Homo sapiens: one gene and its partners. The protein of the gene in region 1 purifies or fractionates together with the protein of each later gene. This does not show direct contact. Each region holds a gene or a part of one and is shown on either strand. Other genes may lie near its edges.

Evidence for each region. The genes of interacting proteins can lie anywhere in the genome.
Region 2: the proteins of FOXN2 (region 1) and RIOK2 purify together in Homo sapiens (affinity purification with mass spectrometry; one large-scale study listed by BioGRID and IntAct). This does not show direct contact.
Region 3: the proteins of FOXN2 (region 1) and RFX2 purify together in Homo sapiens (affinity purification with mass spectrometry; 2 studies listed by BioGRID and IntAct, with this or other methods). This does not show direct contact.

The regions. Positions count from the first base shown.
Region 1 is NC_000002.12:48,355,107-48,360,732, reverse strand, and holds part of FOXN2 (forkhead box protein N2), read right to left. Parts: intron 1,687-5,626; coding exon 1,586-1,686; intron 1-1,585. UniProt on the Homo sapiens protein: Binds to the purine-rich region in HTLV-I LTR.
Region 2 is NC_000005.10:97,173,248-97,177,810, forward strand, and holds part of RIOK2 (serine/threonine-protein kinase RIO2), read right to left. Parts: coding exon 4,485-4,563; intron 4,045-4,484; coding exon 3,869-4,044; intron 2,069-3,868; exon of another isoform or gene 1,970-2,068; intron 17-1,969; coding exon 1-16. UniProt on the Homo sapiens protein: Serine/threonine-protein kinase involved in the final steps of cytoplasmic maturation of the 40S ribosomal subunit. Involved in export of the 40S pre-ribosome particles (pre-40S) from the nucleus to the cytoplasm.
Region 3 is NC_000019.10:6,104,001-6,108,563, reverse strand, and holds part of RFX2 (DNA-binding protein RFX2), read left to right. Parts: intron 1-4,563. UniProt on the Homo sapiens protein: Transcription factor that acts as a key regulator of spermatogenesis. Acts by regulating expression of genes required for the haploid phase during spermiogenesis, such as genes required for cilium assembly and function.

The sequences.
Region 1 (5,626 bases):
TAAATTATTATTTAAAATGCCTCATAATAACCAAAATTAATTAATAAAGATATCAATTTCCAAGTAAGAATATAAAATCTGGTAACTTCTTTTCTAGGTTTCATTTCATAAAGATAAACCACTCAGTTATTCTTTTTATAATGATCCATCTAATCTATAATATGGTAAAGAAGCTTAAAATCTCAGTGAGTGAATATATTACTGATATTTCAACTTTAGCCTTCCCAGCTATTTACTGTATTCCAGCTACAACCACTCCTCTACAAGTTATCTAACAATACTTTAAGAATTCAAATTAACCACTATATGAAACGTTGATGATTGCTGCAGCTGGGAGTTCATTATAACTTTCTCTCTACTTTTTTCCATGTTTAAAAATTTCCATTTATTACTTTATTAAAAATCTTTTTAAATTTTTCAAAAAACAAGTTAGCCATTATAAACTACCCTTAAAGTATTTTAACCAAATCTGGGATTTTCAATTCAAATGAAGGTATATAATAAATTGGAGAAGACTCTAAAGTCTTCTTTAGAAAAAGGAAACAAAAATCAGATTTAAGAAGGTCATATTATTTTCCGATTTAACTTAAAATGAGGAAGCTAGAAGATCAACAGGGGTTACTGGGATTGAAAACAAAGACAAGGAAAATTATAAGCAAATACAGTACAACTATATTTACCAGAAAAAATAAAAACAAAGTTCAAAGCATTATTTTATTTGCCAAACATTTAAAAATTTTAGACTTGAACATACTTTTCAAATATTAAGTACTACGAAAAAAACCTAAAACAGAAAAAGAAACCTACATATGTATATAAAATGTTATAATGACAAACTTAATAATCTTGTTAAAAAATTTTAAATGTATTTTTAATTTCCTTCATTTTTAGGTTAGCATTAGTATTGCAGACAATTAAAATGATCTGACCTGTTTGTAACTGAAATTATATTACAACTTTCTTTAGGGTTTACTTATACTCAGTATTGACTATATTTCCCAGAGTGTATGTTCTCAAGTCACCAATTTCCTGTATTCTAGAAACACAAATTAGACCATAAGGAAAACTAACTTAGGCTAATGTCTTATCCATAAATACTTCTTAAAAAAAGAAAAGAAAAGAAAAGAAAAGAAAAAACAGGCCGAGGATGGTGGCTCACGCCTGTAATCCCAGCACTTTGGGAGGCAGAGGTGGGAGGATCACTTGAAGTCAGGAGTTAGAGACCACCCAGGCCAACATGGTGAAACCGTGTCTCTACTAAAAAGACAAAGATTAGCTGGGAGTGGTGGTGCTTGCCTGTAGTCCTAGCTACTAGGGAGGCCGAGGTGGGAGGATCACCTGAACCCAGGAGAGGGAGGTTGCAGTGAGCCGAGATCTCGCTACTGCACTCCAGCCTAGGTGACAGAGTAAGACTGTGTCCACAAAACAAAACAAAAACAAAAACTAAAAACTAAAAACTAAATAAAACATAAATACTTCTTTATACAATAAAACAGAAACATAATACCCTGGACCTTTAAGTTTCTCCATCTCACACAGTGAAATCCTATAAATCACCACTGACAGTTATATGGAAGATCCTTACTTTTGTGAAGATGCTGAAGAAAAAGGTTGCTTCTTCAGTGCCTGGATAAGATTGGGTTTATATTCCGGATCAACACACCATAAGGAACCTTTTCCATTAACCTAGAATAAAATGCACAAGAATAACTAGGAACTTTTATACATAAACAGTCAGCGTCTAAATGTTTTAAATAAATGTGCAGGGGTAAATAATCTCTAGCACCTTTTGAGTATGAAACTAAGGTTGAAGTGAGCTTGCTATGTGTGCACTGTAGTGACTAAAAGGGATTCATCCTATGATGTACAAAACTTCCTCTAATTCACAAGATTAGTGAGGTTCAAATGTTATTAGCTTCTGGTTTTATATTATGCCTTTTCTACTTCAAAAACTCTTTCTTAAAATTTGAATTACCTTTACGACTACATTAACAATTATTTAGATAACAACAAAATTTACTTGTTTCCCATTCTCATACTCCTTTTTGCGTGTATCAAATCTTCTATGATATAAGCTATTATGATTGCTATTAAGATTTAATGTGATGATCTCCAGAGTCCTTCCATTTCCCACACTCTTTTTCAAGGTACTACTAGTCTATTATTGACGCTCTTTTATCTCTGAATATCATTTCATAATTTTTATAGCAGAATGGCAAAATGAAAGAACACCGTTCTATAGGTTCAAAAACCAAGGTCCCGATCACTACTTATTGACTGGCTATGTGATATTGGGCAAATCATTTAATTTTTGAGAGTCAGACTTCTCATTTACATTTTACCCGTAAAGTAAAACAACAATGCAGGCCACTTCACTGAATTGTAATGAGATTCAAATAAGAGGATTTATATGCAAGAGACATAGCTGCAAAATAGGTGAATATTAAGGGGCCATTCTGAAACTGACGTACGTAAGGGTTGCTGCATGTTGGTTGAATAATAGTATGTTCCTACTCCTTTACTTTCCACCGAGGAGGGAATTTTGAAAAAAAAACGACAATAAGAAAAAAATACATTAGTTCTGAATAAAAGGCAAAAGTTAGGTGGTAAAAAAAAACGGGATAAAATTAATTTAGGAGAGAATAAAACCTTTTGCCTGTGAAAAGGTGTAGCAATTGAGTGTAAGGCAGTTTTTTACTATGCTGGCAATTTATATAAATAGAAAAACCATGGTTGTCATATCACACTATCATAAAGAAAGAAATGCACTGGATTATCAGGAGAAACATTTTCCTGGTGTTTAGCAGCAAGATATCACATTAACTATACTAAAAAAGTATTTGACATTTTCTTTTTTTTTTTTTTTTTTTCAATAAAAGACAAGTTTTACAAATGTATTTTTGGATTAAATGAAACTTCTTAACTTAGCTATATGTTCAGTCACCTGGACCAAATGATAAATGTGTTTTGATGACAAGGAAAAAAATGTTAGCACCAGGCCAGGTGCGGTGGCTCACGTCTGTAATCCTAGCACTTTGGGAAGCCGGCGAAGGTGATTGCTTGTGCTCAGGAGTTCAAGAGCAGCTTAAGCAACATAGCAAAACTCTGTCTCTACAAAAATAGAAAAAATTAGCCTGGTGTGGTGGTGCGCGCCTATAGTCTCAGCTATTCAGGAGGCTGAGGCCAGCCTGGGTGACAGAGTGAAACGCTGTCTCAAAAAAAAAAAAAGGAAGAATTAAAATGTTAGCACCTACAACATCTTTTGCCCCAAAGCCAATTCAGTTTCATATAGAAAAGATACGCAGCATTACTTTTCATACACAGACCAAGACAATTATTTTAATAATGCTAGCCATGCTCTACCTTGGAATTCCTGAGATTACGCTCCTAGAAATTGTTTAGTTCAAGTCTACTTTTCAAATTCTATTGTGAGGGGACTGCAAATTGTTTTGATCACAGTAGAGTTGCTATTTCCTTGAAATAGCAAATTGGAAAAACTGGTATTGAAAACGTGCAGTTTCAGGGCAGTTAAGTATCTTGAGTATGGTCTCAAGTAACAGTCTGGTTTACGTTACCATGGCAGCACTTCCTTTCACTGGGTCTGTTCATGAACTATCATGAACAAGAGATAAAACTCTGTATTTGCTAATCTACATTTTAAAGTCTACAGCAAAAAGAAACTTATTTGTAACTAATTTTCCACTTAAAAGCTTTGGTCCTATATTATTGGGCTTAGATGAGAGAATACAAATAATAACTGTTTAAAACTAAATTTGCCTATAACAAAATAGCCTTCTGTGCTACGGAAACAGGAAATGAGCATTCTCTCATTTTATTATTTTGCGTTTTAGAACTCTAAGGCTTCTGAACTTACTTGGTAGAGAACTGCTAAAGGTTTTGAAGAAATTTTGAATATACTAAAAGGTGAACTTTAAAAAGAATTGTCTTAACAGAAGTGGTAAAGACTAGATTGGGAGAAAAGGCAACGTTCATTATTCCTAAAATGTTTTTATGAACTTGTCCTGTATATTTTAATAGAGTTGCTCACCTTGTCTACTACCAAAAAGAAGGCAAAATGGCAAGGCCTAGATAAAACTATAAAGTGGTAATGATTTTCAGTGGCTTTTAGAACCTCTGAATTAAAAATAATTAACTGATTAAAATTTTACCACACTAGGAAAAAATTTAATTCCATGTTTCCCAGCTAAAGTCTCATAGTAATAATGTTTAAGATGGGCTTTATAAAAATTTAGAAAAGTACATACAAGACTTGGATATTAACTTTTTTTTTTTTGAGACAGTCTCGCTGTGTCAATCAGGCTGGAGTGCAGTGGCGCGATCTCGGCTCACTGCAACCTCCGCCTCCCAGGTTCGGACGATTCCCTTGCCTCAGCCTCCCAAGTAGCTGGGATTACAGGTGTGCACCACCATGCCCGGCTAATTTTTGTATTTTTAGTAGAGACAGGGTTCCACCATGTTGGCCAGCCTGATCTCGAACTCCTGACCTCAAGTGATCCACCTGCCTCGGCTCCCAAAGTGTTGGGATTACAGGCGTGAGCCACCACGCCTGGCCAATTTTTATTTTTATTTTTATTTATTTTTTAAATTGGAGACAGAGTCTTGCTCTGTCATCCAGGATGGAATGCAGTGGCACGATCTTGGCTCACTGCAACCTCTGCCTCCGGGTTCAAGTGATTGTCGTGTCTCAACCTACCAGAGTGCTGGAATTACAGGTGTAAGTGCCACTGTGCCCAGCCAGATGTTAACATTTAAAACATAAAGCCCAAACCAAAGCAAGCTGAACCAAAAGACAACCATATATAATTTTAACAAATTTAAAATCCAGAGACAAATAAATACCAAACCAGGATTGTTAGACCTGTCTTTTCAGAGTAGTAAAAATGGTATGATGATAGGGAGAAAAACATCTTAATCAGCAGCTGTATCAGCTGGCTATCATTATCCCTTCATAGTTTGATCTAGACCTTGCCATTCTGCCTCCTATTGGGATTATCATCTCTAGATAACCGCCATTCATCAGAAAAGTGCTGTCAAGGTTGCCAAATGCAATGCTAACATTTAGTGCAACTAAGTATATTTGGCTTCCACAGATTGGAAGAAAAATACTGTCATTCTGTCACTGACCCAAGAAACATTTCATAAATTAAAAAAAAAAAATCCACATGCATTCCCAAATCTACTTGAATGTATCTCTTTCTGTCTAAATCTCAGACATTTAGGCAAAATAGTTAACTGATTTTTATGAGACGATTTACAAGTTCCTTCCCTCCCACCCTGACTCGTGGTGATAGCTTGCTAATTTTTATGCCAATATATTACCATTTCTATATTTATCCCTTTTTTAAAATTGTAAGATGATTTCTCTCCTTTTCGTTATCAAATTCTACCTATACTCTGGACTGCATCCTTTCCCATTCTCTAGCTCTCACTTCCTTAATTTCTTCCTTTCTCTGAACATTCAAAACACTCAGATTAATTACATTAAAAATGTATACATTTAAAAATTATAGATGTGACCAACTCCCTTTTGAGTATTATCACAAATCATACTATTGGACATATGGTTTTGTAACTTTTACTAAAAATAATACCACTGTGAATATTT
Region 2 (4,563 bases), on another chromosome or scaffold:
TCCTCTCATACAATGCCTAAAATGTTGCAAAACAGGTGTAAGCTAATGAACAGGTCATTACTCTTTAAAGAACAATAAAAGTAAATATACCTTTCTACAACCAGAAAAAAAACACACAAACCTTTATAAAATTGTAGTTAACACATGGTTATTTATGCATAGCTTATTTATTCACTGCGTAGAATTAGCCACACATAAAAAGCAAATTTTAAACAAAAGTTTGAATTCACTTTTCCACAAAAAATGAACATTTACAAAATGTTATGCACTGTGCTGGGGTTACAAAAATGAATGTTAAAAAGTTTCTAAACACTCTAAAATTAGTGTCAAAAAGCCCCCAAGAAGCTTACAGTCTCTTAGGGTATATCCTTTCCTATTTTGTAAGTCTCTGACATTTGTTGAAATGTGCTCAAAATATTTAAATTGGAAACAAATTTAGGAAATACTCATCTTCGGACATATTAGGAAATGAGGCATTCTAAGAGATCAGACATTTTGGTTTATAGGGCACTGAACTTTTTCTCCAGGCCACAATATGCAATATAAATCTATTATGTGAAAAATATACACTGTTGTAGTCTGATTCAAGTGTTAAGACTCTCCATACATCTTTTCCCCTAAGCTTACTGTCTTCAATCTTACTGTTTACAAAGCCCTGTTATTACTTTCTTTAAAATACCTTAGATTTATGCCCTTTGACATTTAGAATGCTAGTATTAGGAATGGCAAAAACTGCAATTACTTTTGCACCAACATATACTTGTAAGGAGGCATATACCTCATTACTCCACAAGTGTTCTAGCTCTTGCCATCATACCTAACCTATTCTATGTACCAATACCAGACTAACCTGCTGATGTTAATATTCCATTTAAAAATATATACATTGGGATGGGCATGGAGTCTCACGTCTGTAACCCCAGCAATTTGGGAGGCCGAGGCGGGTGGATCAGTTGAGGTCAGGAGTTCGACACCAGCCTGCCAGCATGGTGAAACCCCATCTCTACTAAAAATACAAAAAAATTAGCCAGGCGTGGTGGCACATGCCTGTAGTCCCAGCTACCTGGGAGGCTGAGGCAGGAGAATCGCGTGAACCCGGGAGGCAGAGGTTGCAGTGAGTTGATATCGTGCCACTGCATTCTAGCCTGGGTGATAGAGCAAGACTACACCTCAAAAAAAGTTTTTTTTTACATTGGCTGTAAATTTTCTTTTCAGTTTGTAAATATAAACTTTTCCTGGTTTTCAAAACTCTTTAATCCACCTGTACAGTCCTAGTTCTCCCAATATTCTCTCCAATACACACCAAGAAACGCAGTCAGGACAGTCACCTCAGTGTCACCTAAACACATAGGACTCACATAGATTCATGTCATTGCCCATACCACTTCTCTGCCAAAATGCACTGTCTTAGGGTCAAATAATATCCAAGCTTCATGGCTCCACTCAGCTCCACTCACTACCTGAAACCTCCTCCATCAACTATTCTATCACTTACTGAAGTTTCTCTAAATTCAGTATATAATTAAAAAAAAAATTGTTCTTAGACTTGCAGTGGTGGCTCACGCTTATAACCCCGGTACTTTGGGAGGCCGAGGTGGGTGAATCTCTTGAGGCCAGGGGTTTGAGAGCAGCCTGGGCAACACAGCAAGGTCCTGTCTCTACAAAGCAGGCATGGTAGCACATGCCTGTGATCCTAGATACTTGGGAGGCTGAGGTGGGAGGATGGCTTGAGCCCAGGAGGTAGGGGCTGCAGTGAGCCGTGATCGTGCCACTGCACTCCAGCCTGGGTGACAGAGTGAGACCTTGTCTTGAAAATAAATAAATAAATAAATAAATAAATAAAAGGTTCTGTTTCATGTGTTATCTTCTCAACTTTAAGACACAGATCGTACTGGTTATTTCTTTGGCATCCACTCCTTCACCCTACACTACCCCAGCAATTAATTTCAAAAGGTTGTCTATTGCTTACCTTCTGTGAACAAGAACCAAACCACTTCCCACTTCCCAGATATTTTTCTTTGCTTTGTTTTTAAATACTTTTTTTCAGTGTAGACCATTTTGAGCATACCTAGACAGATCAATAGCACGTGATAAACTTAAAGATTGTGAATATTTGTCTAGAACTTGTGCTATCGCCTAGACCTCATGCTATAGCCCAATCTTTATCTTCTTGTTCCTCTCTTATGAATAATCAATACATTAAGGAGTGCATTTATGTGCAACCAGATTCCATTCCTATACCTTCAATATAAATATCCTGAAAAACACCTACTACCCTTTTGGGAAAATGTGTAAATGATCCCTACCAAGCTGCTCATTTACTGACTGAATATTACAAGATACAAACTATTAGTATAAGAAGTACATTGACATGTATGGTATCAGTATTACTAATTTATGCTGCCTTAAGAAATCTCCCATGATTAGTGAAAATTTAAGTATATAACCCACTCAAAGAACAAGCTGAATCCTCAAGAAACAGGTGTTCACACACTGTAGCAATCTTTAATTCACATTGTTTTGAAAAATGAAGATAAACTATGACAAATCCTACTGGCAGGATTATAAAAACACAATATTATCTTTTGTTTAACTTAGTTATTGTTGGATATATTTAATTTGGATATTATTATATTTAACAATCTATGCTGAACTTAATTTTGAAGGCAAAGTTAAAAATAAAGGATTTTTTTTTTTAATGTCAGGGGACAGTATAAATGTAGTCCGCCAGTGCCACAAAATATGCAGTCAAGTTCCAATATTTGGGGAAACTGCAGGGGTCAGCACACCTGAAGTGCAATGAATAGGCCTAACCCTGAGAAAACCGTCTTTGAGATTTTGACATTTCATCTGCCAGGTTAAGCATTTTTTTCTATTTGTATAAATGTATGAGGTACATGTAACATTTTGTTAAGTATATATGAGAAGTCATCAAGTCAGGGTATTTAGTGTGTTCATCTCCTGAGTACAATACATTTTGTTTACTATAGTCACCCTACTCTGCTATCAAACATTGAATGTATTCCTTCTAATTGTATGTTTGTATCCTTTAACCCACTTCTCTTCATCCTTACCTCTTAAAAACTAAAGATTTTTACCATTTTTGTTTTTTGAGACAGAGTCTTGCTCTGTTGCCCAGGCTTGAGTGCAGTGGCACAATCTTCACTCACTGCAACCTCTGCTTCCTGGGTTCAAGTGATTTTCCTGCTTCAGTCTCCCAAGTAGCTGGGATTACAGGTGGCCACCACCATCCCCGGCTAATTCTTGTATTTTTAGTAGGGATGGGGTTTCACCTTGTTGGTCAGGCTGGGCTCCTTACCTCAAGTAATCCGCCCACCTCGGCTTCCCAAAGTGCTGGTATTATAGGCATGAACCACTGCACCCAGCCAATTTTTACCATTTTTAATATACATATAAATCTATAAATGTTTGTTCCTTTATGTGAAACAAAAAACTAGCCAACTTATCTGAGACACTAAGGTTTCTACAGATGATAATTACCTGGTGTTTTCAATTAGAAACAGACATATGTATAGTTACATATATTGAATAGATATATATACATCCACACATACATATTTGTGAGGTAACAGCATCATTAATTACTTTTGGCTCTTTCATCTTGTCAGCATTACAGAATGTGTTGCCCTTATGCATTAGTAACAATTTAAAATACCTTAACGTAGAAGGAAATCACTTAAAAGAGCCCAAATAATCAACAGAGTTATTTAAGATTGAGTCTGTCTGTAGGAATTGAGTCTAAGGTTAGAGAGATGTGGGGACAACAGAATCACACTTGTCATTAAGGCCTTTGAGACACATGTATTATTTGGCTAAAAAATGCATGACTACAAAATAAAATAAATACCTTCATATAGGCAAATTCCTTCATGGCAGAGAGACGAGATAAATATAGCCATGACACATTGTGCCTATGTTTATGATAATCGCGTTTGTTTTTCAAATTTCGAAACGAGGTTCTTCCTAGTCTGTGAAGCTTTAATGCAAATTGTTGTCCTTCTTCATTTGCAACAATGTAAATATCTAGAGACAAAATTTCAAAAACAACCATTATTACACGTTTATTCCAATCAGTTAAAACAATTCTAACTTTCTCTAATTTTATTTGTATCAAAAATGTCATTTTTCCTAATAAAGATTGAGTATCCCTCCTTATCCAAAACCTTCGGACCAGAAGTGTTTTGAATTTTGGATTCTGGTATATTTGCACATAAATAATGATATATCTTGGGAGTTATTAGAAGAAAATTAATTCCTGGTATAAATGAATTTTCAGTGATAGACGTTCAGAGAAAATAATAACCTACTAATTAAGGACACCTTCTGATTTGTACTGCTTCCAATCAACTTTCCAACTTACTGTTTAGTTAGAAAAAAGGGAAAATTAAAAGAGGAAAGGTTTCTGAAGGGAAAACATAAACTAAAGCAAAGAAAATACTTTGCACAGTACTATTAGCACTTACCTGATTCTTTGCCAACACCCATCTGGTTTCCAACAGACTCAACTACTTGCCTAGAAGAAAGTGTTTTCAAAGCTAGGTA
Region 3 (4,563 bases), on another chromosome or scaffold:
ACAAGCTTCATTCTCTGTTTCAACTAAGAGTTCCCCAACAAAGTAACAGTAATAATAATAATGACACAAAACAACAAAGACTTTTTAAAAAAATTTTTGCCTGTACATATTGTTGACATGTATTTTATCTTTTTACATCGTGCCCTGAAACATTGTTTGCTTATGGAAAGATCCTTACCTCCCGTCCTTCTGGATAAGGAGGAGGGGGGCATCTGTGCTTTCTCCTGCTCTAGTTTAAAGACTTGAACTGACTCTAAAATAACCTTAGAAACGACAACTCACCTACTCTGACCAGAGAAGTAAGAGTTTATGGTAACCTCCCTAGGAAAAGAATTTAAGTTCTTGAATTACTAGGGCTTCTTCATCAACAGGCGTGGTACGGAAGGCAACTTATAATGTATGATGGGAAAGATCACTGTTCTGTGATTCTGTGACAGTTCAACGGACTTGGGTTGGGAATGAGTTCTGAAATAGTTTGCTCCTGCAGGAAAAGCAATACTGAAATATTTTAGTTTTTTAAGTTCTTTCTTATAAACCACTGAATCTGAGAAGAGAGAGACAGTTATTACCTCAATAACAGGACAAGTTCTTTGAAATCACTTGATCTTTGCTTTCTGCGTGAAGGGCACGCATTACCTTAATGTATGTGTGATGTATATTTAAATACAACAATATAATATAATGTGTATGTGATGTATATTTAAATGTAAATACTCATCTTTTAACATTGTTTATCATTGAAGTACTGCTAAGGATGGTTCTGTCCACCAGAAATGCAGGTGCTGGGGAATTGTTTATCTGGGTCTTATTCCTTAGATCTAATTGTTTAGTTTTACATTAGCATTATAATTAATAAAAATATTAAATTGGCTTAACTTTAATATTATAATCGAGTCAAAATTTTAAATGCACCTGTGGATTTTTTTTTTTTTTTTTTTTTTTTTTTTGAGACAGGGTCTCACTCTGTCACCCAGACTGGAGTGCAGTGGCAAGATCTCAGCTCACCTTAACATGCACCTCCCAGGCTCAAGGGATTCACCTGTCTCAGCCTCCTGAATAGCTGGGATTACAGGCATGCACCCCCACACCCGGCTAATTTTTGTATTTTTAGTAGGGATGGGGTTTCACTATGTTGGCCAGGCTAGTCTCAAACTCTTGACCTCAAATGATCCAACCGCCTTGGCCTCCCAAAGTGCTGGGATTACAGGCGTAAGCCACCAAACCCGGCCCCTGCACCTGTGGATTTTTGTTTGTTTGTTTGTTTGTTTGAGACAGAGTCTTGCTCTGTCTCCCAGGCTGGAGTGCAGTGGCACCATCTCGGCTCACTGCAAGCTCCACCCCCGAGGTTTACACCATTCTCCTGCCTCAGCCTCCCGAATAGCTGGGACTACAGGCGCCTGCCACCACGCCCGGCTAATTTTTCGTATTTTTTAGTAGAGACGGGGTTTCACTGTGTTAGCCAGGATGGTCTCGATCTCCTGACCATGTGATCCGCCCACCTTGGCCTCCCAAAGTGCTGGGATTATAGGCGTGAGCCACCGCGCCCGGCCGGCACCTGTGGATTTTTATAGTAGCTAGTGATTGTTTTGCTCATAAAATGCTGGGGCCAGAAGGAACCACATCTTATAATATATATTTGTTTCTAAAGTTGACATCTATTTATTAAATATTTAAATATTTTTAAAATATATATTGAAATATTAAAACATGTATATATAATATATACTTATATATTTAAATATAATAAAATTTAAATATAAATATATGTTAAATATAAAACAAATATATTTAAATATTTACAAACATTTAAACAGTATACCCCCATAGGTACCCACTTACTTGTAAAATAGGAAACTTTTGAAAAACCAAGGGAAGTTCTCATCTTGCTTGTCAGGACACTCACTAAACTGCAGGGGAGGAGAATGCGAGTCTGTGGGCCTGTCTCTGAAACTATGGGTCCAGGGCATTCCCACTAAACACAGCCGTATTTCTGAACTGAACTATATGAATATTCACCCGAAGTGGGGAAGAGAAGGACCATAAGTAACTTCATGTCAATTCAGGCCAGCTTTTGTCACCAAGTGAGTCCATGCCAAATTTACAAAAAAATTGCCAGTTTTCAGAGTTTCCTGGATTTCAGTATTGTTGTAAGGGGTTGTGGGCTTATGTATTTTTTAAAAAGATGTTTTGACTCCGTCTCTAGAATTTAAATGGCAATTAGCTCCTCTGCTGGTCATGTTCTCATGTTCTCTCATGTAGACATATGCCTGGTGTAGTGAAAGGTCTTATTTTGTTGGATGGATGGATGGATGGATGGATGGATGGATGGATGGGCAGGCCGATGGAATATACACTGGGAATTAGAGAAAAAACTGAAAACCACCTACTTGCTTCTTGGAAACTCTAAGATCAGCAAAAGGATTCTCCCAGGAAAAAAAATATAGGGGAAGACCCAGAATGAAGTGGGCGAAAGGGATAAGGGTAGGTGAAGGAGGAGTGGCAAAAGGTCCAGAGAGAGGCCCTAACAGGCCTATAGGGAACTGGAGCCTGGGAAGCTCTGGACTGGCTTAGGATTCTAAGCTCTTCTCTGCAGAAAACATCTATCCAGCTGCCTGCTGGGTACATCCAGGTGGATTCTGACAGGCACCTTAAACTTAAGGTGGCCAAGCTGAGCCTGTCATAGTCCCCCCAGATCTACTCCTCCCAAAGCACCCCCCAAACTCGTTGGTACATATCAACTCACTTCTTCCCATTACTCAGGCCAAACCTCAGGACTGTCCTTGACTCCTCTCTCCCAAGCCATCAGCAAATCCTGTTGACTCCACCTTCAGTAGTTCCCCAGAACCTGACCATGCCTCGCCACCTCCACTGCCAGCCCCTCTGGTCCCAGCCACCAGCATCTAGCCCGGATGATTCCACCACTGGTGCTCGGCAGTCTCTCAGCCCAGCAGCCAGACGGGGCCTGTTAACCCTGGGAGAGGCGGCGTCATGTTAAGTTCTACTTCATACCCCTCAGCTCGAAACCCTCCGATGGCTCCCATCTCATCTGCAGCAAAAGCCAAAGTCACCCCTAACTCCACTCCCCGCCAAGCCTAATACCTCTTTGACCTCATCGCCAAGCTAGATGCCTTCCCTCACTGCACTTCCACCCTGCTGGCCTCTGGAAGCTCATTCCAGCTCTGCCTGGAAAGCTCTTTGCCCAGGTATTTGGAGGGCTGGCTCTCCGACTTTCTTCAGGCCTTTTCTCAGATGTCACCAGGCCACCCACTTGAGAATGGGTGCTCTCAGCCTCCTTCCCTGCTTTCTCTGTCTCCTTAGCATTTATTCCTATATAACACACCATAAGTTATACGTATTTATTGTATTATCACTGTCCTCTTGTTAGAATGTCAGCTCAGTAAGGGCAGGAACTTCTGTTTTATTAACTTCTTTTTTTTTTTTTTTTGTGAGACGGAGTCTCACTCTGTCACCAGGCTGGAGTGTAGTGGTGCAATCTCGGCTCACTGCAACCTCTGACACCCAGGTTCAAGCAATTTTTCTGCCTCAGCCTCCTGAGTAGCTGGGATTACAGGCACGTGCCACAACGCTCAGCTAATTGTTGTATTTTTAGTAGAGACAGGGTTTCACCATGCTGGCCAAGATGGTCTCGATCTCCTGACCTCATGATCTGCCCACCTCGGCCTCCCAAAGTGCTGGGATTACAGGCATGAGCTGTTTTATTAACTTCTATATCCCCAGGGCTGAGAAGAATTTTGGTGCTGAGTAGGCAATTGAGAAATATTTGTGAAATGAATAAACAAATGGTTTCCTTGACACTTATGGGGAAAGCATATGTAGAAATGAAGAGTTGAGAGCTGCATTGGGTGTGGTGGCTCACACCTGCAATCTCAGCTACCTGGGAGGCTAGGGCAGGAGGATCGCTTGAACCCAGGAGTTTGAGACCAGCCTGGGCAACATAGCGACACCCTGCCCTTAAAAATTTTTTTTTTTTTTTTGAGATGGAGTCTCACTCTGTTGCCCAGGCTGGAGTGCAGTGGCACCATCTCAGCTCACTGCAAGCTCCACCTCCCAGGTTCAGGCCATTCTCCTGCCTCAGCCTCCCGAGTAGCTGGGACTACAGGCATCCACCACCACAACTGGCTAATTTTTTGTATTTTTAGTAGAGACGGGGTTTCACCGTGTTAGCCAGGATGGTCTCGATCTCCTGACCTCATGATCCGCCCACCTCAGCCTCCCAAAGTGCTGGGATTACAGGCGTGAACCACCGCACCCGGCCAAAAAAATTTTTTTTAAATTAAGAATTGCTCATAGGTACCTTAAGTTCATATTGCCATCTCTGAGTCAGTAGAGCCCAAATTGGATGAATCTGGATGAATGGGGCAGGGGAAAGAGGAAAGGAAAAGTTGCAGGTCATAGTGCTGGGTGTTGCAGACCAGGGCTTTGGGGCACAGCAGAGAAGGAGTTAAATTGTGGTGCCACCGTTTATTAGCTTAGTGGCTCTGGGGCAAGGTTTGACATCTGTGAAATCGATAATAATAGCTCGTGTGGTTGCTATATTAGAAA